Linked DNA regions of Homo sapiens. The protein of the gene in region 6 purifies or fractionates together with the protein of the main gene of each other region. This does not show direct contact. Each region holds a gene or a part of one and is shown on either strand. Other genes may lie near its edges.

What was found.
Region 1: the proteins of SNX21 (region 6) and NUBPL purify together in Homo sapiens (affinity purification with mass spectrometry; one large-scale study listed by BioGRID and IntAct). This does not show direct contact.
Region 2: the proteins of SNX21 (region 6) and OCRL purify together in Homo sapiens (affinity purification with mass spectrometry; 2 studies listed by BioGRID and IntAct, with this or other methods). This does not show direct contact.
Region 3: the proteins of SNX21 (region 6) and GAS6 purify together in Homo sapiens (co-immunoprecipitation; one large-scale study listed by IntAct). This does not show direct contact.
Region 4: the proteins of SNX21 (region 6) and POLA2 purify together in Homo sapiens (affinity purification with mass spectrometry; 2 studies listed by BioGRID and IntAct, with this or other methods). This does not show direct contact.
Region 5: the proteins of SNX21 (region 6) and SPATA20 purify together in Homo sapiens (co-immunoprecipitation; 2 studies listed by BioGRID and IntAct, with this or other methods). This does not show direct contact.
Region 7: the proteins of SNX21 (region 6) and POLE2 purify together in Homo sapiens (affinity purification with mass spectrometry; 2 studies listed by BioGRID and IntAct, with this or other methods). This does not show direct contact.

What each region holds. Positions count from the first base shown.
Region 1 is NC_000014.9:31,672,904-31,676,403, reverse strand, and holds part of NUBPL (iron-sulfur cluster transfer protein NUBPL isoform 1 precursor), read right to left. Parts: intron 3,050-3,500; coding exon 3,010-3,049; intron 2,921-3,009; coding exon 2,830-2,920; intron 1-2,829.
Region 2 is NC_000023.11:129,560,759-129,564,258, forward strand, and holds part of OCRL (inositol polyphosphate 5-phosphatase OCRL), read left to right. Parts: intron 1-420; coding exon 421-535; intron 536-1,625; coding exon 1,626-1,742; intron 1,743-1,840; coding exon 1,841-2,028; intron 2,029-3,500. UniProt on the Homo sapiens protein: Catalyzes the hydrolysis of the 5-position phosphate of phosphatidylinositol 4,5-bisphosphate (PtdIns(4,5)P2) and phosphatidylinositol-3,4,5-bisphosphate (PtdIns(3,4,5)P3), with the greatest catalytic activity towards PtdIns(4,5)P2.
Region 3 is NC_000013.11:113,854,077-113,857,576, forward strand, and holds part of GAS6 (growth arrest-specific protein 6 precursor), read right to left. Parts: intron 1-3,500. UniProt on the Homo sapiens protein: Ligand for tyrosine-protein kinase receptors AXL, TYRO3 and MER whose signaling is implicated in cell growth and survival, cell adhesion and cell migration.
Region 4 is NC_000011.10:65,264,962-65,268,461, reverse strand, and holds part of POLA2 (DNA polymerase alpha subunit B), read right to left. Parts: intron 1,881-3,500; coding exon 1,756-1,880; intron 986-1,755; coding exon 894-985; intron 1-893. UniProt on the Homo sapiens protein: Accessory subunit of the DNA polymerase alpha complex (also known as the alpha DNA polymerase-primase complex) which plays an essential role in the initiation of DNA synthesis.
Region 5 is NC_000017.11:50,545,728-50,549,973, forward strand, and holds the start of SPATA20 (spermatogenesis-associated protein 20 isoform 1 precursor), read left to right. Parts: upstream 1-1,446; 5' UTR 1,447-1,481; coding exon 1,482-1,558; intron 1,559-1,937; exon of another isoform or gene 1,938-1,992; coding exon 1,993-2,040; intron 2,041-2,555; coding exon 2,556-2,726; intron 2,727-2,826; coding exon 2,827-2,891; intron 2,892-3,082; coding exon 3,083-3,237; intron 3,238-3,315; coding exon 3,316-3,459; intron 3,460-3,558; coding exon 3,559-3,760; intron 3,761-4,246. UniProt on the Homo sapiens protein: May play a role in fertility regulation.
Region 6 is NC_000020.11:45,836,799-45,840,287, reverse strand, and holds part of SNX21 (sorting nexin-21), read right to left. Parts: exon of another isoform or gene 2,953-3,489; intron 2,021-2,952; coding exon of another isoform or gene 1,897-2,020; exon of another isoform or gene 1,756-1,896; intron 809-1,755; exon of another isoform or gene 1-808. UniProt on the Homo sapiens protein: Binds to membranes enriched in phosphatidylinositol 3-phosphate (PtdIns(P3)) and phosphatidylinositol 4,5-bisphosphate. May be involved in several stages of intracellular trafficking.
Region 7 is NC_000014.9:49,664,215-49,667,714, forward strand, and holds part of POLE2 (DNA polymerase epsilon subunit 2), read right to left. Parts: intron 2,200-3,500; coding exon 2,116-2,199; intron 950-2,115; coding exon 893-949; intron 461-892; coding exon 412-460; intron 1-411. UniProt on the Homo sapiens protein: Accessory component of the DNA polymerase epsilon complex. Participates in DNA repair and in chromosomal DNA replication.

The DNA.
Region 1 (3,500 bases), on a different chromosome or scaffold from region 6:
ACTACTATTATATGCAACAATAAACATGAATTTCAAAAGCCTTAGGCTAAGTGAAACCATATAAAAAAAAAGCTACATCCTGGACGGTTGCAGTGGCTCACGCCTGTAATCCCAGCACTTTGGGAGACCGAGACGGGCAGATCACCTGAAGTTGGGAGTTCAAGACCAGCCTAACCAACATGGAGAAACCCCGTCCCTACTAAAAATACAAAATTAGCCAGGCGTGGTGGCGCATGCCTTGTAGTCCCAGCTACTCAGAAGGCTGAGGCAGGAGAATTGCTTAAACCTGGGAGGCGGAGGTTGCAGTGAGCTGAGATGGCACTATTGCACTCCAGACTGGGCAACAAGAGCTAAACTCTGTCTCAAAAAAAAAAAAAGCTACATCCTGTATAATCCTATTCATTTGAAATTTAAAAACATGTAAAACTCACTACGGTGACAGAAATCACAATGATTGTCTATGGGTATGGGATGAAACAGAAGGGGACCCAAGGAAACTCTCTTGGAGGATGGAAATGCTATTTAGTTTGATTGGGTTATGATTACATAGGTATATATATTTATCAAAAATCACTGAATTATATACTGAAAATCTATGCATCTCATTGTATGCATAATTTTAGCTCAACAAAGTATTGTCAGGGAGAAAAAGAAAAAAACAAAACAACTTTAAACCAGACTTCTAGTTCAGGATATCAGAATGACCACAGTATTTTTCTTCTCCCCATAAATGGGTACTAGGAGGGAACATGAGAGGATGTTCTGGATCACTGGTTTTGTTCTAGTTATCTTGTTCTAAATGATGATTATATAGGTGTTTCAACTTTGGGATAATTTATCTAATTATACTCATGATTTGTACATTCTTCTGTATATATGTTATATTCAATTGTTTAAAATGAGCCAATGAATCAGGTACAAAAGTTCTATCTAGCTACTGAATTTTCATTAAGGATGTTAAATTTACCAAATAATGGTTTGGTTTCTAAATCAAAACAAAAGTGAAAACACTCCTTAGCTCTGATGATCAGCATTAGTCCCAGTGTAGGCCTAAAATACCAGCTTTTCAGCTCCCAATAAAATGCACACATGAAAGTGACTTCACGAAAGACTGTAAGATAGATATACTCTAGGTAACCTCAAAGCATCCCAATAAAATATGAATCCATTTTCTTACCCCATCTTTATCCTGATATTCTATAGTATGTTTGCTGAAAATGTATCCACCATACTTCTCAAAATAAACTGTAACTTTTTTTTTTTTTTTGAGACGGAGTCTTACTCTGTCACCCAGGCTGGAGTGCAGTGGCACGATCTCGGCTCACTGCAAGCTCCGCCTCCCGGGTTCACGCCATTCTCCTGCCTCAGCCTCCCGAGTAGCTGGGACTACAGGCACCCGCCACCAAGCAGGGCTAATTTTTTTGTATTTTTAGTAGAGATGGGGTTTCACCGTGTTAGCCAGGATGGTCTCGATCTCCTGACCTCGTGATCCGCCCATCTCGGCCTCCCAAAGTGCTGGGATTACAGGCGTGAGCCACCACACCTAACCAATAAACTGTAACTTTTATACAATTTATGTGTCAGAGAGCTTGTTTTTGCCAAATCTTCATTTGGACCTCTGCTAGACTACCAAATTCCCTGAATATTTTTTGAGAATAACAACATGTAAAATCTGATGACTGAAGTGTTGTGAAGGTAGCTAAATTCAAAAATCAAAAATATATAATGCAGGCAATTAACACAACTATTCTATATTCTCTGATAGTATTTAGAAGTACAGAAAACAGAGGGTGGGTTAATCAAGACAAATAAAGGTCAAGGTCACAAAGGAATTGGTGGGGATGGGGTGGTTTGGGGATTTTAAATGAAATCACTAACTAGGGGATCTGACAGTAAAAGAGGAGAAAATGAAACCAAGAGACTTAAATGACTAGGACCAAAAATCAAACAGCACATTTATCACAATTCAAGCAGCAAAAGTGGTAGAAAGGCAAGATGTTATAGTGAAAAAAAGAAGAGTTTCAGAGTTCAAGACAGATTTCATCTACTTAATTGTATACCTGAAAATGAATATAGGAGTATCTACCATTAGAATTATCAACCTATTGCATGGTGCCTGACCCAAAGTAGAATCTGAACAAATAAAAGGTAACTGTTATAAGTTGATGAAGTAAATGCAAATTACTTTTAACTTTTACCTAGAAGACAATTACAAACTCAAATCTACTGAGAAAAAAATAAAACTTATTCCAAGCTAACTATAAATAACATATAGCCCAATTGATATTTTTAGATTATCCAATCAAATGTTCTCTTCTTTTCTTAAGGCTAAATTAAAGTTGATTGGACAGATATTACACATGCAAATATATAACCATATATACTCAAAACAAAATTTTACTTTTTTCTGGAGCAATTTTAAATCACAAGTACATTGGTTTATATAATTTTTTTCTACATCTGTAGAATTTCTACACTGCCCTTATAACTCAATATTGACCACAATGAGATTAATCACAAATCTAAAGAAGGAAGATAACTTATAAAAATTGATTTGGTCTTCTTACTGCAGACACAGTCAAAGCAAGAAAACAGTATTAAGTAAGACAATAGAATTTTTAGTACTCACAAGCAATGGGAAAGATTAAATCATGTTAACAGTGAAGTTTGGTCTTGGCATCACATTAACTCATTAGGTGCCATATTACGCATTATACATTCATCCCATCAACTGATTCCTGAATGCAAATTTTAACAATTCTCCAATCAGCAAATGTATTAACCACAGCTTTGCCAATGATAAAATGATATTTAAAGCAATATTCTTACCTGCCTCAACAATTTCTCAATGGCCGACATTACCATAAGGCCTCTCCAAACTACTGGTTCACTTTCTTCAACCAGAAAGCCCATAGACATACTGCAACAGTAACATAAAAATACAACTAATTTGTATAAATTAATCAACATTATTCTGAAAAGTAACATTAAAAATATATATATGCTCACCAAGCAATACCATAATTCAAGAGAGGCCTCATTAGGTTGCCTGGAAAAAAAAAAAATCCTCTCTTTTAGAACAATAAAACACAACACATAAACATTCTGAATTGGGTTTTTTTTTCATCTTTTTAAAAATTTTTTTAATTAACAAAAATTGCATATGTTTACGGGGTACAACGTAATGTTATGATACATGTCTACATTGTAGTAGAATAATAATAAGTAAATAAATAATAAACCATGCTAATTAGCATTCCACATCACCTCACATATTCTTTCTTTGCAGTAAAAACATTTAAAGTCTACTCTTTTAACAATGTTGAAATATACAAAAAATGATTGTTAACAATAGTCACCATGCTGCGCAACAGATCACTAGAACTTATTCCCCCTGTCTAACTGAAACTTCGCACTACTTGACTAACATCTCCCCTTTGCCCGTCCATCCTTCCAGGATCAAAGAATACCAAACTGGAAATACAAATAGGCTACTCATA
Region 2 (3,500 bases), on a different chromosome or scaffold from region 6:
ACACGAGAGTTAACTTGCGGGTCAAATTTGTGAGAACAGAAATGAACAGATACCTAAAATGGTGTAAGGAAGCATCTAATTTTCTTGAAACCCGTAGGAATCTATATATTCTGCATAGAAACTAAGACTTGGGGTCAGTTCTAACAGTGACAGTTCCTAGGATATAAGAGCAAAGCTCTGCTGTTATCCTCTGTGGGAGGTATTTTGATTTATTTTTTGCATAGCTTATGAATGTACTTGTGGGAATTCTTTAGAAAAGAAAGCTACTTGTTCTTACTGATAACCTGGGTGAACAGAGCAGTTCTATAAAATTTATCTCTCTCCCATCTTTTTTTCATCTAATGTTTCAACATATGGGACAGGAGGTAGCCAGAGATAATTATGGGATATGTATAGATCTCATATCCCTTTTTTCCTCAGATTCCAAGAACTGGACTTGAGCACAGAAGCCTTCTTCTACTTTGAATCTGTGAAGGAACAAGAATGGTCCATGGCTGTAGAGAGAGGTTTGCATTCCAAAGCCAAGTATAAGAAAGTAAGCCGCATTTAATTATCTTTTTAAGTGTATGACTAAATAGGGCTCACCGGGAGTTATTCCATTATCTACAACTTGTTCCAAAAGAATAGTTTAATTGAATTCTTCTCTGTGTGTAATACTGGGATAGGGCAGATTGATCATTCATCCTTATTTCCTAGAAAAAAAAATCCCTAAGCTTTCTGATACTATATTTTCATTGCTTAGATAGCTTTTAGGGGAAAAAAGAATTTTATTATGCTTATATCAATACTTAGTTTGAAATAATTACATATAAGATTTAGATTACTCACTGACATGGTCAGAATTGAATGCTTTACAGAAAAGCAATATGAAACGTGGGCGCATGGTGCATGTGTTGCAATCAGAGCAAGAATAGAAGTGGTGTGGAATTTGAACGAGTTCTAAACTTGGTTTTAAGTTAAGAGGAGAGTTGACTTTAGCAAGATGGGCCAATTTGTTTGTCTTTAGAAGGTATGTGGTAAAGGCATTTAGCTACCAGAAGAGTTAATTACAGGGCTATCATACTAAGGTCTCTAAAAGAAGTAATGTGAGTAATTTTTCTCTACATCTTCTAACAGTTTATATAGGTAATAAAACTCCTGGGGATGTTATTCCTCTCATATAGGTCCCTGACTAATGTATATCTCAGACATATTTCTAGCTGTAGTTCACAAGTTAAAAATAAGTAAAAAAGATTGCTGTTTGGTTGATTTCAATTTCTTAGAAAATTAGACATCAGAAACTAGGAAGGAAAGGTGGAAGGAACAAGCTGGGATAGTGGCTTTATTATTTGAACTTTTAATGCTGCTTACTCCTGGTAGGCTAAGAAGTGATTAAAAGAATAGATCTAGAGCTGAAAGTACTCATTGTCCCTCCCAGCTTTTAACTCTTATTGGTCAGTGCCAGATTAGAGCCTCCCCAGAGAATATTAGTTTCCACTTGACGGGGTCCACTGAGAAATTAGAGGATATGAAGTCAGATTTGGGCACTAGTATATCATCTTGATGGAAAATTAGTCGTGGGACATTAGAAATGTGGCAAAGATTGGTATTAACATTAACCTTTTGTAACTCCCCGGAACTCATAGGTTCAACTGGTGCGCCTTGTTGGGATGATGCTTCTTATATTTGCCAGAAAGGATCAGTGTCGATACATTCGTGATATTGCTACAGAAACAGTTGGAACTGGAATCATGGGGAAAATGGTGAGTTACTTTGGAAATGAGCTTGATTATTATTCATGTTCATGTAAAGTTCAGTTGCTTGTTCTGTGTACTAATTGAATAATTACTCTTGCTAACAGGGAAACAAAGGTGGGGTAGCTGTGAGATTTGTATTTCACAACACCACCTTTTGCATTGTCAATTCCCATCTGGCTGCACACGTGGAGGACTTTGAGAGAAGGAATCAAGATTATAAGGACATTTGTGCGAGAATGAGTTTTGTGGTCCCAAATCAGACCCTCCCGCAGTTGAACATCATGAAACATGAGTAAGTGGTTAACTCACCTGTAGCCTTTGAGTAGTGGCTACAGGAGTTTGGATAGTGTAGAGATTAAATGTGAGATACTGTAGAGCTGTGAAGAGTGAAAGATTACCAGTGAGGGATTGGGGTCACAAAGGAGAGGGTTTTTGAGTAATAACAGAATCATTGAGGCAGAGAAATTAGACTTGATATCAGAGGAAAAGATAGTTCTATTAGTGGGGCACCTAGAATAATGCTGGAGGGTCTGTAGTTGGAGTCAGTTTTTATTGTTTTTATGATAAAATAGAAATATTCATTGCAAATGTAATAAAAGATAAAATTAGAAGTTAAATTTCCTCATTTCTTATTCTCTACCTAGCCAGTCCCTCTCTCCAAAGGAAACCATTCTTAACAGTTGGGTGTGTAGCCTTTTAGATCTGTACTGTCCAATATGACAACCAGTAGCCATATATGGCTGTTAGGTACCTGAAAGTGACTGGTCCAAATTAAGATATGCTGTATGCATAAGCTATATATTGGATTTTAAAGACTTAGGAAGAAGATGTACGATATCTTGATTTCTAAAATATTGATCACATGTTGAAATAATTTGGATATATTGAGTAAAATGAAATTTATTGATACTCACTTGTTTTTTTTCTTTTTAAATGCAGCTACTAGAAAACTTAAAATTATATTGTGAGGTGCATTATAATTCTATTAAATAGCACTATTCTAGCCTTTTGTCTATTCATATACAAACACACACATAGGTACTTGGTGTATAAGACTGTATTATTCTATTTATTGTGGATTCCTTTCCAAGCCAGTATATATAGATCTACATTATTCTTTTTAATGGCTGTGCTTATTAAAAACAGGGGCAGCAGAGAGAGGTCAGTGAAGAATGGGATTTAATAAGCATAGAAGCAGAGATGTGTTGAGGAGTAGATGTGGTGGTAGAAAATGATTAGTTTTAAAGAAATTAATATACCTAAAACCATGAAAACCCTAGAAGAAAACCTAGGCATTACCATTCAGGACATAGGCATGGGCAAGGACTTCATGTCTAAAACACCAAAAGCAATGGCAACAAAAGCCAAAATTGACAAATGGGATCTAATTCAACTAAAGAGCTTCTGCACAGCAAAAGAAACTACCATCAGAGTGAACAGGCAACCTACAAAATGGGAGAAAATTTTCGCAACCTACTCATCTGACAAAGGGCTAATATCCAGAATCTACAATGAACTCAAACAAATTTACAAGAAAAAAACAACCCCATCAAAAAGTGGGCAAAGGACATGAACAGACACTTCTCAAAAGAAGACATTTATGCAGCCAAAAAACACATGAAAAAATGCTCACCATCACTGGCCATCAGAGAAACGCAAATCAAAACCACAATGAGATACCATCTCACACCAGTTAGAATGGCAATCATTAAAAAGTCAGGAGACAACAGGTGCTGGAGAGGATGTGGAGAAATAGGAACACTT
Region 3 (3,500 bases), on a different chromosome or scaffold from region 6:
CACCCAGGGTCAGCGGTGACAGGTGCCTCTGCCCTCCTCCAAGCTCACACCCAGGTGCGCCCTCCCTTGCTGGGAGCCCTCTTCCTGGGAGCTCATCCTGGTGTGACTGCCCGGTCAGATGTGGATGCTGGGAAAGGCCTCTGTAGCTGACTGCACAGCTGTGAGCACCCTCCATGCCTCACAGCACCGACGTGGTGCCTGACCCGGTGGGTAACCAAGCTCTTCTCACAGAAGCCCCGAGACACACATCAGTGTCTCTCATGGGCTTCATGGCAAACGAGACAGAGGAGCTCGAGTGGCTTCCAGCAGCTGCACGGCGGTAACGCCGAGACTCGCCCCGCATGGCAGTGACGCCGAGACTCCCCCTGCATGGAAGTCATGCTGAGACTCAACCCTGCACGGCAGTAATGCTGAGACTCACTCTGCCCGTCTCTGCCCCAAACACAGAGCATGCTCCCGACAGCCCCCAGCAGGGTGTCCTGTGGTGCACAACATTCAGCATGTGAGCGTGGACGCAGGGAAGGAACAGAGCTGCAGCCCCCACAGGCCCTGAGCCAGCACAGGCTCTCATCGAGGAAGGCCCGCTGTCTTTCAGGGCAAGCCCCACCGAGGGCTGCCTGCTTTGAAGTGCAGAGCAGTGACTGTCTCTGGCCATTTGGCAGCATCCTTGCGGGCCCTGAGAGAAGCCAGTCAGGAAGCCACACAGCTGTTGGATGGGAGGGATGCTGGCCACAAGAAACACTACAAGGAGAGAGGCCCAGGACACGCCACTGTTTGCACGTGGTGGGCAGAAGGGAGCCTGGGAAAGTGCTGACTAAAGACAGGCCAGTCTGTGGGGGAGCAGAGGGCGGGGAGGAGGAAGGAAGAGGGTTCCTCCGTGCCCACCCCAGCCCCGGTGGCATCGCTGTCCTGGGAGCAGCCTCGTGCCCGCAACAGCTGCCGTGGAGAGGAAGTGGGATGTCTCACTGCAAATGCTTTGGGAAAAACAAGACAGTGTACTTTGTGATCATATAAAACAGCAAAATAAAATAGTCGTGGGCACAGGGCCAGTGATTCTGCAGTTAGAGCCGTGTGGACTCGGTCCCCATCTCCGGTGAGGGCGTCTCCTGCACACGGCACCCATGCTTCAGGTCGCACACACGTGCCTTGGACCCAAGTTCACCTTTGGAGGTGTCAATCCCCCCAAGAAGATGTGCTAACCTTGGAGTTTGGGGCCTAGGCTTCCATCAGAGTCTTCCCCACAGAAAGCGAACTGGGACTGGTCCCTCAATAAGCTACCGGCCTCTGTTCACAGCAGCACAGGATGAGGATGCCTGGGTCTTGCCAGCCACCACGTTCTATGATCCCAGGACAAACACGATTGCAAAGTTCATGTGTGTTCCCGGCTTACAAATGGGGAGGTTTATTTACGGCCTCTCCGGATCCACGGGGAGCTGCTCCATGGGACGCTGGACAGCTCAGTTCCCTTGAAAGGATGGCTGCACCATCGAGCATGACTCAACCCAAAGATCCAACGCGCAGGGGCCTGGCAGGGACAGCTGTGCTTGGGACGCCGGTGTGCCACTGCCGCTTCTGCGCCGGGAGTCACGCCCCGGCCTCTCCCACTGGGCTCCCAGCCTGAGCTCTGCCCAGCTGGTGTAAGGACAGTAAAGGCAACCAGATGCCCTGACTGCGACCACCACCAATAGTCGCCAAGAGTGCACGCAAGCAGAAATCACAGATGCCCTGGCAGCTGCCTGAGGGACAGGCTTCTCCTCCAGCTTTATCCAAGTTGAGCTGGTCTTCGGCCAGACGACCAAGCTCAGGCCCCAAATTCACCTGGGTTGCTCTGAGGACTGGTGAGACTTAAAGGTCACTTGGACTCCTCCAGTGGCCGGGACACATGTCTCTCTAGTGGACTGGTTGCCTTCCGTGTTGTGAGGACCGGCCAGGCCTGCAGGTTGGTGCCTTCCTCTGGCCTCACTGAGCAGCAACACTCAAGTTCAAACACAAAACCACCATTTATGGTGGAGCCATGGGCTCTGTAGCCCAGCATGACGCACCTGGCAGACCATGTTCACGAGACTAATGCTCCGAGCCACTGACACACACCCAGCTCCCCGCAGCCGCCCTGTGCTTTATGCGCCCACACCAGCACCACTCAGCCCTCACATGGGTGCCAGTATGCTCACAGTCGCCTGCACACAGAGGAGCACACAGTGGGGCCGGGGGTGCTGCCGCGTCCTGCTCTCCCCCAGTCCCAGCGAGCACAGGAGTTAATGACAGAGTGTGGGGCTCAAATGCCCAGGACACACTGTAGCCCTCCACAGCCTCTCAGGGCCTCAGTTTCCACATCTGTAAAATGGCTCAGTGACAGCTGTTACACAGTTGTCATGAGGATGTAACAACTTCACACATGGAGACCCCGAGAACAGCACTCTCAGGAGGACCCGTGCACGATTCATCTTTCAGACTAACAGACGAGCTGAGCGACGGACGAGCTAAGTGATGGATCTGAGAACGGGAGTGATCGGGAAGTGAACAGTTTCATCATCTGCTGCTGCTATTCAATTGTCAGGGTTGAAATAAACGGAAAGCCAGCCTGCCCGTAAACACTGTCATGTATTTCCCACAAGTGTAAAAAGGAAGTGAACAGTATCTTCCAGGTGTGGTGGAGACAGTCCAGACACACCCAAAGCCCACTGCGCCTCCCTGAGAGCTCCCGCGTCCGGGCTGCCCTCATTTGGAGTGGGCAGGAATGCCACACCGCAGCCCTCTCTGCTTCTGCAGGGACGGTCAACTTAGCAATTCAGAAAAGAAACAATGTTGACTCAGAGAGTGGCCTTACTGTACTGTGGACAGTTGGTCCTGGATGGGAGCCAGTCCCAGCCTGGCCGAACGTTTGGCCTTTTTATGCTGAGAATCCAGCCACTGCAGTGACCGGCCCAGGCTCTCTGAGGGCTGGCTGGGTCAAGCTGTGTGTTTTCCATGGAGCCCCAAGTTCCAAGGGGAGGTAGTCACAAAACAGGGTCTAGCAGGTTTGTGGACAGATGTGGAGAAAATGTATTTTCTTATCATAGGCACTAACACTGGAAGGAAAAAAATTTCACCTATAATTTGAAAACGGAGCCCCAGAAAATTAGTAGAACATTAACAAGGCCCAATGCACTTTACTATTTCTTTTGAATATTATACTTTTAATCAACACCCGTCAGTCAGAGCAGAGAGTGCCTCTGTCAGAGTGAAAGGCAAAACTGATACTGTTCTTAACTTATTCCACTTCCAGCTCCCCTTTAAAATTTATTTTAAAACTTTTAAAATGAACCTTTCACTTGGCCAGGGTCAAAATTTACAAGGCGTACACACCAGGTTTGCAGTGAAATCACTGGAATATAAAAACCATGGAAGAGTCCAGAGCATTTCCAACATCAAATACGAAACCCTTAAACAAGCAGCTTTGCATTGGAGAAACAGCTCTCAGTTTTAACCTTAGAAAACAGGGGAAAATGAAGCATGAGGAA
Region 4 (3,500 bases), on a different chromosome or scaffold from region 6:
GAGAATGGCATGAACCCAGGAGACGGAGCTTGCAGTGAGCTGAGATCACACCACTGCACTCCAGCATGGGCGACACAGCGAGACTCCATCTCAAAAAAAAAAAATAATAATAATAATAATAAACTTTCATATAAGGCAAGGGCTGATTGCTAGAAGAAATCTCAATATTAGGCAATTTTTACTATTATTATTATTGAGATGGGGTTTCCTCGTCGTCCAGGATGGAGTGCAGTGGCCTGATCTCAGATTACTGCAACTTCCACATCCCAGGTTCAAGAGATTTTCTCACCTCAGCCTACCAACTAGCTGGATCTACAGGCGTACATCACCACACCCAGCTTATTATTATTATTTTTTAATTTGTACTTTGGCCGGGCACGGTGACTCACGCCTGTAATCCCAGGACTTTGGGAGGCCTAGGCAGGCGGATCACCTGAGGTCAGGAGTTCGAGACCAGCTGGCCAACATGGTGAAACCCTGTCTCTACCAAAAAAAATACAAAATTATCCAGGTGTGGTGGTGTGCACCTGTAATCCCAGCTACTCAGGAGGCTGAGGCAGGAGAATCACTTGAGATTGGGAGGCAGAGGTTGCAGTGAGCTGAGATTGCACCATTGCACTTCAGCCTGGGCAAAAAGAGCGAAACTCCAACTCAAAAAAAAAAAAAAATTTGTACTTTTGATAGAGACAGGGTTTCACCATGTTGCCCAGGTTGGTCACAAATTCCTGGGCTCAAGTGATCTGCTTGCCTCGGCCTCCAAAAGTGCTGGGATTACAGGCCTGAGCCACCGTGCCCGGCCTTATTATTTGTTTTTAAATTACACATGCGACTACAGACAAATTATAAAATACAACATGTAGCTTGGTGCAAAGACCTTCAGCAGAAAAGGATACAGCTCTTGAATGGAAACAATGTCTCTAGCTCCTGCATGGCCACTGTCCTTGCAGGTACTATGCCTGGCTTTCGATAATCTTTTGCTCAGAAACTGAAAAAGAAAAGATAGTGAATACAGTACTTCATAGTCAAGTAATAGCAGAGGTGTTTTCAAAAGCCTTGAGATAATAAAAGGTATTCAAAATATAATCAAAGATCTAACATTCCTCAAAGAATTAAGATACACACAGACTAAAAACAAAGACATCCCATGACTGTCTATAACATATAACAATCCTAATAATACCAATTATTTGGTGAAGACTTATCACCTGCTGGGCATAGTTTTAAGTGCTTTATGTCCATTCTCATTTCTTTTTTTTTTGAGATGGAGTCTCGCTCTGTCCCAGGCTGGAGTGCAGTGGCGCAATCTCAGCTCACTGCAACCTCCACCTCCTCGGTTCAAGCGATTCTCCTTCCTCAGCTTTCCGAGTACCTGGGATTACAGGCGCCTGCCACCATGCCCAACTAATTTTTGTATTTTTAGTAGAGACAGGGTTTCACCACGTTGGCCAGGCTGGTCTTGAACTCCTGACCTTGTGATCTGCCTGCCTCGGCCTCCCAAAGTTCTGGGATTATGGGCATGAGCCACGGCGCCCAGCCCCATTTAATTCTTATAACAATCATAAAAAATACAGATTATTAGACCCAATGTCAGAAAAGGAAACTGAGGCTCAGGGACATAGTTTGTCCAAGCTCACACTGGGACTGGAATCCAGGCCTGACTCGAAAGCCCACACTCCTCTCAATATATCACAATGCCTCCCCTGTAGAGCAGAAATGGAGAATCACATTATTAGTTTGCTTTCATTTTGTTCTTACCTCATGCTCAAAAGAGTTCAGGATCTCTGAGGTAAGGCCAACTTTATGTGTGCTGGTGCAGAAGGCTATAAGCTCGCCTACCATTCCCTCCTCATTCTGTCCATACTGAACACAAAGCTCTACCACTGTAGAAAGGAAAATTGGACAAGTAAAAACTTAGTTCATTTCTCGAAGTTTCACCTAGAAAAGCAAAAATAATCCTGGTTTACTCCATCAATGTTTATTCAGAATCTATTAGTGCCAGGCACTGTTTTGGGCAATGAGAAAACAGAAGCATCCTTGTCCTTACAAAGCTCACCACTGAGGGGAGACAAAAGAGGATAAGGGCAGAATCAGGGGGACCAATTAAAGAATCATGGAAAAGCCCAGGTGAGAGATGATGGTGGCTTGGATCAAGGTGGTGGCAGTGGAGATGGCGAGAAGTGGCTGGACTCTGGATAGGACTTTACATGCTGGAAGTGAAGCCAGTGGGATCTGCTAACTGAATGTAAGGTATGAGAAAAAGAAAGTCAAGGATGATGCTGATATTTTTAGCCTGTGCAACAGGAAGAGTGGCGTCCCTATTAACTGAGATGGGGAAAAGAGCCAGAGGAACTACTCTGAGGAGAGAGAGGAGATACCAGGAGCTTAGTTTTAGACATGCAGAGTTTGAGGTGCCATTTAGACATCCAACTGGAGACAGCAGGCTGAACAAACCAGCCTGTAGTTCAGGCAAGGGTTGTGGGCGGAGGTATAAATTTGGGAACCATCAGTAAATACATGGGATATAAAGCTATGAGACCCCAGGTGAGATCGCCAAGGGAGTGAGCGTATCTAGAAGGGAGAAAAGATCCCAGGCTTGAGTCTTGGGGCGCCTTAGGGCCTCTGAGGATGAATCGGCAAAGCCTGAGAAGCGGTGACACAAGCAAAGCTGAAGAAAAACTAGGAGTAAGCCGGATGCAGTGGCTCACGCCTGTAATCCAGTATTTTGTGAGGTTGAGGTGGGCAGACTGTTTGAACCCAGAAGTTTGAGACCAGCTTGGGCAACAGGGTGAAACCGTTTCTATAAAAAATACAACAATTAGGTGGGCTTGGTGGCATGTGCCTGTAGTTACAGCTACTTGGGGGCTGAGGTGGAAGGATTGCTTGAGCCAAGGAGGTTGAGGCTGCAGTGAGCTGTGATTTGCCCATTATACTCCAGCCTGGGCAACAGAGCAAGACCCTGTCTCAGAAAAAAAAGAAAGAAAAACTAGTAGTGTCTAAGAAGCTAAAAGAAAAATGTGTTTAAAAAAAGAAAAAATGACAAACAGTGTCAAGTGCCGGTGCTAATTCAATTCAAGATGAGGACTGAAAATTCATCACTGGTTTTAGCATGGTGAAGGTCACTGGTGACCTTGAGTAGAGCAGCTTTGGTGAAGTGGTGGCAACAAAAGAACTTACTGAAATGGATTTAAGGAGGAAATATTTAAAGATGGCAAGGCCCCCCCCCTTTTTTTTTTGGAGACAGAGTTGCACTCTGTTGCCAGGCTGGAATGCAGTGGCACGATCTCGGCTCATTGCAACCTCCACCTCCCCGATTCAAGCGATTCTCCTGTCTCAGCCTCCCAAGTAGCTGGGACTACAGGCATGCGCCACCATGCCCAGCTAATTTTTGTATTTTAAGTAGAGACCGGGTTTCACCACGTTGGCCAGGATGGTCTCCATCTCTTGACCTTGTGATCCGCCCTCCTCCGCCTCCCAAAGTGCTCGGATTACAGGCGTGAGCC
Region 5 (4,246 bases), on a different chromosome or scaffold from region 6:
TACTGTCATCAAAAATCCCCTTCTCTGGCCAGGCACGGTGGCTCACACCTGTAATCCCAGCACTTCGGAGGCTGAGGCAGATGGATCGCTTGAGGTCAGGAGTTTGAGACCAGCCTAGGCAACATGGCGAAACCCCGTCTCTACTAAAAATACAAAAATTAGCTGGGCATGGTGGCGCGCTCCTGTAGTCCCAGCTACTTGGAAGGCTGAGGCACAAGAATCGCTTAAACCTAGGAGGTGGAGGTTGCAGAGAGCCAAGATCCACTGCACTCCAGCCTGGGCAACAGAGTGAGACTCTGGCTAAAAAAAAATGGGGTCGGGTATGGTGGCTCATGCCTGTAATCCCAGCACTTTGGGAGGCCAAGGCAGATGGATCACCTGAGGTCAGGAGTTCGAGACCAGCCTTGAACCCAGGATGCGGAGGTTGCAGTGAGCCGAGATCACACCACTGCACTCCAGCCTGGGTGACAGAGCGAGACTCTGTCTCAAAAAATAAAAATCCCCTTCTTACAGTTCACGAGTGTCTCCAAGATCTTGCCTCTGCCCTCATCTACTGCCTGTCTTCCCTCTTTCTGCAGTTGCTCAGCCCGGACTCACTGACAAGCCACGGGACCTTTGCACAAACTGTACCTCTGCCTCCTTCCCCAGCACTCCCCCTGAGCACCCTCCAAGTTCCTTTCTCTCGTTCTCCATGGCTTCACAAATGTGATTTCCTCAGGGAAGCCTTCATCCTTTGCCCCTTCCACCAGATCAGGTCACTTGTTACGTTATACCCTCACGGACTTGTCACGTGGGTGTTTATCGGTATGGCTGTCGAATTAGCATCTGCCGCTCTCAACAGACTGTGAGCCATGTGAGGGCAGGAGCCTTGTTTCTCTCTGCCCACCATTGTATACTCAGTGCCTTGCAGAGTGGCAGGCGGCAGGCACTTAATAAATATTGGCTGAATGTAGCCAATGAGGCCATGTGTAACCTATGAGACATAAAATGGGCTCATCAGTATTATTTAAGGAAGACTTCCTGGAGTGGGTAGGATTTGAGTAGGACCTAGAGACGAGGAGGCTGCAAAAAGCAAACCTTGTTAGCTGGTGGACCTGGCCAAGGTACGCCTTCGCCTTGGATCTCATTTCTCATTTGTAAAATGGGCAGGGGTTGGACAAAATGAGCTGAAGCTCTGGCATCCCATGTCCCTAGCATCTCCCAGCCCTAGATCCCACAACTCTCCCTATTCCCTTGAGAAGGGCTGTCCTCCCCAGGCAGGGGCAGAGCCCAGTTTTATGCACAGAATGGGTCCTCCCAAGGCTCGGGTGCCTGATCTGCAATTCTGCGCTCCGCCGCAGGGCGACGCTCGGAGACCAGCCACACTGTCCCAAGTCCCGGCGAAGACCCGCCCGCGGCTCCGTAGGTGCCCGGCCCGCCCCTCGCAGCCTCCTGACTTCCCTTCCTGTCCTCAGCGGCCGGGCCCACGGCCCCGAGCAGCCATGCTGGGCGCGCGGGCCTGGTTGGGCCGCGTCCTTCTGCTGCCCCGCGCCGGTGCAGGCCTCGCCGCGAGCCGCAGGTACGGGCGGGCGAGCGGGCCCCTAGGGCACTCCCTGCGCCTGCCTGCGGGCCCAGTGGAGGGTCTTCCGGACACCGGTCCCCAGTGCCAGTCTGGACCACCCCTGCATGCCTGGCCCTTCCCCCACCCCACCTCCGGTCTGCTCCTGAGACCTGGCTCTGGCTGTAAGGCCCTCCTCCCCTCCTCTCCCGTCCTCATCCCTTCCCTCCTCTCCCCTTCCTTCCAGTGCAGTGCCAGCTCCTCAGGGACTGTTCTGACACTGCTTCCAGGAAGCCTTCCTTGCACCCCAGTGCTGGATGCTGGGTCAAGGGCCTTTCTCCAATAGTACCCTGTGCCCTGTCACAGTCCTTTATTGCTGCATGGACCTTTCGTTATTTAGGTCTGCCTGCAGTCCCACTTCCAGGCTGAACTCCCTGAGGTCTCTGATTCCCTAGGTGTCCTGGAGTCTGGCCCAGGACCTGGCCCCACAGGAGTCCCAGCAGGTGGGCGCTGAGTGAGGGAGTCCCCATGTCTGGTTTCCTCTGTTTGTCCCTCACCTGGTCGAGTCCCAGACCCTACTGATCTTGGCCTGTCCAGCCACCAACAGTAGGCTGCCTTCCAGTGGGGCCACACCCAGGCCTGCCAGAGAGATGCCTCCAAGCAGCTGCTCCAGGAAGGGCCGGGGGAGGGGCCTGGGGAGGGGTAAGAATGGAGCCCCAAGAACCATTCTGCCCATTGTGACCCGCCCTGACCTCACAGCCATCCTTCCCACCGCCAGGCCCAGGAGGTTGGGGGAGACTAACCTGGCAAGGAGCCCCCAATGAGCCACCTCTCCTCACCCCCCAAAAAACATAAGGGGGAGCACAAAGGCCACAGTCTCCCCCATGGTTCAGAAAGGTGGGTTGGGCTGGGAGCAGGGGTCCTACTGGGGTGCTGAGTGAAATGGAGCAGGTGCTGGGGGGCCTGGGAGAAGGTGGGTGGAGGCCCCTGGCTTGCCTGATGCACCAGTCCTCGCCAGGGGTAGCTCCTCCCGGGACAAGGACCGAAGTGCGACGGTCAGTAGTTCAGTGCCCATGCCTGCTGGAGGGAAAGGAAGCCATCCTTCATCTACACCCCAGAGGGTCCCCAACCGCCTGATCCACGAGAAGTCACCATACCTCCTACAACATGCCTACAATCCTGTGGACTGGTGAGCACCTCTCCTGGGGCCCTGCCTGGAATCGCTGGGGTCCTGGGCCCCTCCCAGACCCCCTGGGCTACTGAGTGATGCCCCACCCTGCTGGGTCTAGGTACCCCTGGGGACAGGAAGCCTTCGACAAGGCCAGGAAGGAAAACAAGCCGATTTTCCTCTCAGGTAATGCTCCCACCTTCCCTGATGTGGGGGTGTGGGCAGGGAGTGGCAGTGGATGGGGGAGGGTCCTCTCGGCCTGGCGGGTCTTCCAGGAGACTAGAGGCCAGGACGTCTTCCATGTAGCCAGGGCCACTTGGCCAGCCTCCCTCTGACCCGTTGCTGGCCCCCTGACCTCTCCCCATGGCCCTGTTCAGTCGGGTACTCCACCTGCCACTGGTGCCACATGATGGAAGAGGAGTCCTTCCAGAATGAGGAGATTGGCCGCCTGCTCAGTGAGGACTTTGTGAGTGTGAAGGTAGACCGTGAGGAGCGGCCTGACGTGGACAAGGTGTACATGACGTTCGTGCAGGTGAGCAGCCCTCCTCGGGAGTGTATGCGCCACATGGGCTCAGAGCAGCTCCCCTCACCCTCGCCCTCTCTCCGCCAGGCCACCAGCAGCGGCGGGGGCTGGCCCATGAATGTGTGGCTGACTCCCAACCTCCAGCCCTTTGTCGGGGGCACCTATTTCCCTCCTGAGGATGGCTTGACCCGAGTCGGCTTCCGCACAGTGTTGCTGAGAATACGAGAACAGGTGGGTGTGCCTCCGGGAGTTGGGGGACCAGGGTGGGGGACTAGGAAACAAGAGCCCCTCCCCCTAGCTGACCTCCAGGTGTGCCCCCACCTCCCGCAGTGGAAACAGAACAAGAACACCCTGCTAGAAAATAGCCAGCGTGTCACCACTGCCCTGCTGGCCCGATCAGAGATCAGCGTGGGTGACCGCCAGCTGCCGCCCTCTGCCGCCACCGTGAACAATCGCTGCTTCCAGCAGCTGGATGAGGGCTATGATGAGGAATACGGTGGCTTCGCTGAGGCCCCCAAGTTTCCCACGCCGGGTCAGTGCCCCACGCCCGCCTTAGCCCAGGCTTTGGCCTTCTGATTCCTATGCTGGTCAGGGACCTACTGGCTCCTGGCCTCACCCATAGCTTCCTGTCCTCCTGACTGGCAGTGACCTCCTTGCCCCTAGCCTGTCGGTAGCTATCGGTGAAGACCCGACTGCTGGTGTCAGCAGTGACCCTCTCACCTTAACCTAGATGATGACCTTCTGTCCCCTGACTTGGTCAGTGACCCAGTGACCCTGACTTGGCTAATGACATTCTGGGCTCTAGGGGGACAAGTAACTTACTGGTCCTCTGTGAACCAATGATATTCTGACCTCTGGCTTAGGCTATTACCTTCTGTCCTGTGGGTTGACTCTTGACCTCACAGCCTGTCCAGAGACTGCCTGTTGAGTGAACTCCCAGCCTCTGCCTGGCCCAAGGCCTCCTGACCACCCCGATCTCTGTCCCCACTTTCCCATTCTCTCACCTGCATGTTCTTGG
Region 6 (3,489 bases):
ATCTCTTGGGGCTCCTTTAGGACCAGCTTGGAGCTTGTTCCACTTTGGACACCTGGCCTCCACATCCCTGGTCAGGCTTTTCCAAACTAGACCCAGAGGACAGGTCTGTAGATAGCCACAACTGCCATAACTGTGAAAAGTATACTGGCCTAGGACTCAAGTTCTAACCCCAGGTCAGCTACTCCTTCTCTGTGTGACCCAGGCAAGGGAGTCCCCCTCTGGGTCCACTTCTGTTTCTAGTGAAGGAAGTGCTCGGTCAAGTCAGTGTTTGTCCAAAAATGAGACATGTACAAGTATTGGTACCTGAGGTTTTTAGGTGGTGTGCACTAGAGTAAATATCACTGTATCAGGAGGTTGGTCCCCTTTTAATTATTATTTTTTGAGACAGGGTCTCACTGTTGGCCAGGTTGGAGTACACTGGTACAATCATAGCTTACTGCAGCTTCAACCTCCTGGGCTGAAGCATTCCTCCTGCCTCAGCCTCCCAAGTAGCTAGGACTATAGGCATGCACCACCACACTCAGCTATTTAAAAAAATTTTTTTTTTTTTTTTTGTATGGAGATGAGGGGGGGTCTCACTATGTTGCTAGGGCTGGCCTTGAACTCCTGGCCTTGAACAATCTTCCTAGCTAGGCTTCCCAAAGTGCTAAGATTACAGGCATGAGCACCACACCCAGCCTAATTGTTTTTTAATCTTTCTGACTACAAATTGAGAAGCTCTCAGTTTGGTTTTGTTGGGGTTTTTTTATTTTTTTATTTTTTTTGAGACGGAGTCTCGCTCTGTTGCCCAGGCTGGAGTGCTGGAGTACAGTGGCACGATCTCGGCTCACTGCAAGCTCCGCCTCCTGGGTTCACTCCATTCTCCTGCCTCAGCCTCCCGAGTAGCTGGGACTACAGGCGCCTGCCACTACGCCCGGCTAATTTTTTGTATTTTTTAGTAGAGACGGGGTTTCACTGTGTTAGCCAGGATGGTCTCGATCTCCTGACCTTGTGATCCGCCCGCCTTTGCCTCCCAGAGTGCTGGGATTATAGGTGTGAGCCACCGCGCCTGGCCAGCTCTCAGTTTGGTTTTAAAAAAAGGACTTCTTGGGCAGGTTGCAGTGGCTCACACACACACCTGTAATCTCAGCACTTTGGGAGGCTGAGGCAGGTGGATCACCTGAGGTTGAGAGTTCGAGACCAGGCTGACCAACATGGAGAAACCCTGTCTCTACTAAAAATGCAAAATTAGCCAGGCGTGGTGGCACATGCCTGTAATCCCAGCTACTTGGGAGGCTGAGGCAGGAGAATTGCTTGAACCTGGGAGGTGGAGGTTGTGGTGAGCCGAGATTGCTCATGGCACTCGAGCCTGGGCACCAAGAGTGAAACTCTCTCTCAAAAAAAAAAAAAAAAAGTACTTCTCTAACACTTCTCATCTCCATTTTTAGAAAAGAGTCAGAAAGTGGATCTCAGGTCAGGGCCTCCTTCAGGCAACAACATCTAGGCAAGATTTAATGACGTTTCATTTTCACTACTTACTTATTTACTTTATTTATTTATTTAGTCTCGCCCTGTCGCCCAGGCTGGCATGCAGTGGCACAATCTCCGCTCACTGCAACCTCTGCCTCCTGGGTTCAAGCAATTCTCCTGCCTCAATCTCCCGAGTAGCTGGGATTACAGGCGCCTACCACCACATCCGGCTAATTTTTGTATTTTTAGTAGTGTCGGGGTTTCACCGTGTTGGCCAGGCTGGTCTTGAACTCCTGACCTCAGGTGATCTGCCCACCTCAGCCTCCCAAAGTGCGGGGATTACAGGTGTGAGCCACCGTGCCTCACCTTTTATTTTTATGGCTAGCTTCTCTCGGTGGCAAGTGAGACTTTCCACGTACGGTAGTGCTATGAAGTTGTCTTTTAAAATTACTTAAAGGATGGGCACAGTGGCTCATACCTGTAATCCCAGTACTTTGGGAGGCTGAGGCAGGAGAACAGCTTAAGGCCAGGAGTTCGAGACCAGCCTGGGCAACATGGCAAGACCCTGTCTCTAAAAAAAAGAAAAAGAAAAAGAAAAAGAATTAGTTGGGCACTTGTGGTCCCAGCTACTCAGGAGGCTGAGGCAGAGAATCATGTGAGCCCACGAGTTCAAGGCTGCAGTGAGCTATGATCACGCCACTGCACTCCAGCCTAGGCGACAGAGCAAGACTCCGTCTCGATAAACTTATTTAAGAAAAAAAATAGGTTCGGCTGGGCGTAGTGGCTCACACCTGTAATCCCAACACTTTGGGAGGCTGAGGCGGCAGATCACTTGAGGTCAGGAGTTCAAGACCAGCCTGGCCAACAGTGAAACCCCATCTCTACTGAAAATGCAAAAGTTAGCCAGGCATGGTGGTGGGCACCTGTAATCCTAGCTACTCAGGAGGCTGAGGCGGGAGGATTGCTTGAACCTAGGAGGTGGAGGTTGCAGTGAGCTGAGATTGCACCACTGCACTCCAGCCTGGGCAACAGAGCAAGACTCTGTCTCAAAAAAGAAAAAAAAAAAGATAAAGAAAAAAAAATAGGTTCATTTAAAGAAAAATGTTAAGAAGAAAAGGACACAAGTGGCATTTTTAGATAGGACAAGAATCAGGGAGGTATTGGAATGACTGAGGTTTGGAAAACACTGAACAAGATGATCACGAAGTTCCCCGCCTCCCAGGTCTGAGAACCTGAATATGGATTAACCTATAATGCCAAGCCAACAGGTTTAAAAGGAGAGTTAACCAGTGTTAGATGTTAAAGGCACCCTAACACCAAATCCAGATCTTTCTCTCACATTTGTTCTGTGGAACTGACAATACTCTAGCCACTCCTGGTCAGTTAGGTTTGCTTACTCTGTCCTCTTGAAGATTCACAGTGTATATCACTATTAGGGATTAAATACTTTAACAATAAAGAAACTTATTGTATTCTCATTTAACTCTGCATTCTCAAAACATATTGCCTGCAAAACCTTTATTTAGAAACAGCTATTAACATTCCAGGGAACTAGTTTTCTGCAGGACACACTTTAGGACACCAGTTTTCTTCAGGACACACTGGTCTATATAATAAGCCTTTATGTTCATCTAGTTTACATTTTGTATCCATTATCTCATTGACCTTGTAACATGCAGCCAGATGGGTGATAATGACAGTAGTTCCATTACCCAAGCATTTACCCTGTGCCTCCTGTTGTACCAAGCACTCTTTACATCTGTGATTTCATTTAATCATCACAACAGCACTGCAAGGAAGGTCCTTATCTCTGACAGCTGAGGAAGCAGGCTCAAAGAGGGGGAAAAGGGCTCAAAGACTTGCCGTAAGTCACACAGCTGGAAAACAGCCCAGCTGGGATTTAAACTCAGGTTGATCTGATTCCAAAGCCTGTGCTCTTCACCCCCACAAGTTGAGTGGGGAATTAGGGTCCCCATTGTACACAGGAGGTGCCTTGCTTCTCCAGACACAGGCCGGGGCATACTTGGCCATCCTGCTCTA
Region 7 (3,500 bases), on a different chromosome or scaffold from region 6:
GGCATGCGCCTATAATCTCAGCTACTCGGAAGGCTGAGGCATGAGAATCACTTGAACCCGGGAGGCGGAGGTTGCAGTGAGCCGAGATCGCGCCACTGCACTCCAGCCTAGGTGACAGAGTGAGACTCTGTCTCCAAAAAAAAAAGAAAAAAAAAAAAAAGGGTGTGTAATTCGGTGATTTTTAGTATATTCACAAGTTGTGTAGCCATTACTACTATCTAATTTCAGAACATTTTCATCACCCCAAAAAGATTTCTATTAGCCCATTAACAGTCTAAGAGTTATTTTGCCAAAAATATGCTCTTCTAATTAATGGTATCCCAAATTATATCATGTTAACATATTTTACCCAAAGCAGAAAGTTTTACTGGAGAATGAGAAGAAGGACAGTAACAAAGTATACTGACTTACCTTCTGCTAAGACAAAGCATGCCTCTGTGTATAAACCACTATGGAACTGGTACACAACAGTTGAGGAAAATAATTCTATTCTTGAGGCAGTAATAAAGTCAACATACATTTTGAGTCCAACAAGGCTTCTAAATAATAAATTTAAAGACTTCCCATTTGAAACTGTGAATAGACCACAGCTTAGAAAGAGCTTAAAAAATTTTAGTTTTAAATGTCCTCATGTTTAATTCTTGGTAATATTGACAGGGTGGATCATTCTTACCATGATATAAATTTCGTCAGTGATTCATCTAGATTCTCCAAATAAGAGAAAATTAAAGTTGTTCTGTCCCTGTTTAGGATTATATCTCTACATTCCTACACCAGCAACATAGAGAAGTTACATTGAGAACCCAAATAGGTAAATTTTAGAAGGATATATAATCAATTTCCCCAATTCACGTAATGCAGATTTTAAAAAATACAGACAAGTGAAGGATATAGCTTTACTAAGGTCTAGTTGGACTGTTCCAGTAGGATCTTCCAGAAAAAATTTTCCCTAAAAAAATGAAAATAAATAAATCCACATTTATGTAACAATGAAAACCGTTGACAAAAAAATTAAACTACAAGTTTGACAACAGAATACAATAGGGAGAAAGTGGATTTTAAAAATCAGCTATTATTTCTAGTCCAGGCTCTTCCATTTACTAGTCTGATAACCCCAGACTAATCACTTAACTGAGATTCTGACTCCTCACAGGTACAATGGAGAATGACTCCTACAGATAAGAAATGGCAAGAGGGACATTTGATGTCTGCCATAAGGAGGGTCTCCCCAGGTACCTTCTAAGACAGCCAACAGCATGTCCAAGGGACCAGGACATACTCTGCAGCTTGCTTGTTCAGAAACCCAGTACTCTCCGTTTATCCAGAGGTCACTACAGGCCTAATTTCAGGCTATGCAAACTGGGCTCCTGCACAAGACACTCTGTCCTGATGTCTTCTCAGGAAACCAAACACAGATGAAAAAGACACTTGGTGACTGAGAAAAGGTTTTTGTTTTTTCTGGGTTTTTTTTTTTTTTTTTTACTATTACAAAAGTTTATTTAACAAAAAGTCTAATATGAAAATGTACATGACCTAATTTTTACGTCATTGTAAAACAGGCCCTATGGAGAGAGAAAATGGGTTTCTCTGCTGAACAGCCATTATTATTTTATTTATTTATTTATTTTTGAGACAAAGTTTCGCTCTTGTTGCCCAGGCTACAGTGCAATGGCACCATCTCAGCTCACTACAACCTCCACCTCCCGAGTTCAAGGAATTCTTCTGCCTCAGCCTCCTGAGTAGCTGGGATTACAGGCATGTGCCACCACGCCTGGCTAATTTTGTATTTTTAGTAGAGACAGGGTTTCTCCATGTTGGTCAGGCTGGTCTTGAACTCCCGGCCTCAGGTGATCCGCCCACCTCAGCCTCCCAAAGTGGCTAGGATTACAGGCGTGAGCCACCGCGCCCAGCCAACAGCCATTATTTATCCTTGTTCCAAGGCTTCTGACATGATGATACTATTTCCTCGTATTACCACTATTCCAATATTGTTCTGTTGGTGAGGCGAGTTTTCAATAAAGAATACATTCCTGTGCCCACTACAAAAATGTTCTATGTAACCGACATTTCATCAATCCAAGGCCAAAAATAAAAGTTTGATGCTTATTAAGTTACCTCTTTTAACTGCGTTATCATTCCAAGAACAATCGCATCTCCGATTTTGGTTGTACTACCCAATAAGGTTTCTATTGTTTTAAGCTAAAATAAAACAAAATAAATTTTAAAGACTGTAAATATATTCTTTCAAGAAACAAAACTTTTTATAAATAACTATATTTGGGGTATACATTTCAGCATTTATAGCTACTTTACAGTAGAAAATCAAATAAAATGGAAATAAAGTTGTAAAATTAAACTTAGGATGTTTAATTTTGTCCTACAAAAAAGCTGTAAGATCAAGTGTATGATGCCTAAAGAAACACCACATCGACTCAGGCTCTTACCAATGACTGAATCCTCACACCATATCATTCTGAATAATGATAAGTACATTTATTTTTTAAATATAGAAAAGAATATCAATTTTATTTTCTTTGAACAGTACCTTTTGAAAACTAGCAAGCTATTTAAAAATATATATTCCAATTTTACTTAGTATTTTAAAAGGCTCTCATTATTATTTACATTCTCAATCTGATCTTTTTTTCTAATCAGAAAGTTTAAGGTAGTAAAAATTGGGACACTATTGTAAAAAATCCTTTCCGGCCAGGTGCAGTGGCTCACGCCTGTAATCCCAGCACTTTGGGAGGCCGAGGCAGGCGGATCACGAGGTCAGAAGATCAAGACCATGGTGAAATCCTGTCTCTACTAAAAATACAAAAAATTAGCCAGGCATGGTGGCAGGCGCCTGTAGTCCCAGCTACTCGGGAGGCTGAGGCAGGAGAATGGTGTGAACCCGGGAGGCGGAGCTTGCAGTAAGCCGAGATCGCCTTGCATTCCAGCCTGGGTGACAGAGCAAGACTCTGTCTCAAAAAAAAAACAAAAAAAACAAAAAACTTTCCATCTTTTTCTATATGTAATCCTAAATATATGTAAATACATACATATATAATTTATAACACACACCTATACAGTTTATTTACAAAGATGAAATCATAGTATATGTACTATTCTGCAACTTAACTAATTGAAGTTAATATTATCTGAGACATCTTTCCATTTTTCTACATATAGATTTCCTTCTGTTTAAAGAATAGAGATATCTATATTATACATATGACCATTTATTTCACCAAACTCCTATTAAAGGACATTTAAGTTGTTCCCAGTTTTCTACTAATAAAAACAATGTTTAATATTTCTGTGCAACTTTCTTGGCCCACTACACAGATAGAAACTTTTTTTTTTTTTTTTGAGATGGGGTTTCACATTGCCCAGGCTGGAGTGCAGTGGCACTCTCATACCTCACTGCAGCCTTAAACTGGGCTCAAGTGATCCTTCCACCTCAGCCCCCTGAGTCACCAAGATTACAGGCACTAGCCACTGCATCCAGCTACAGA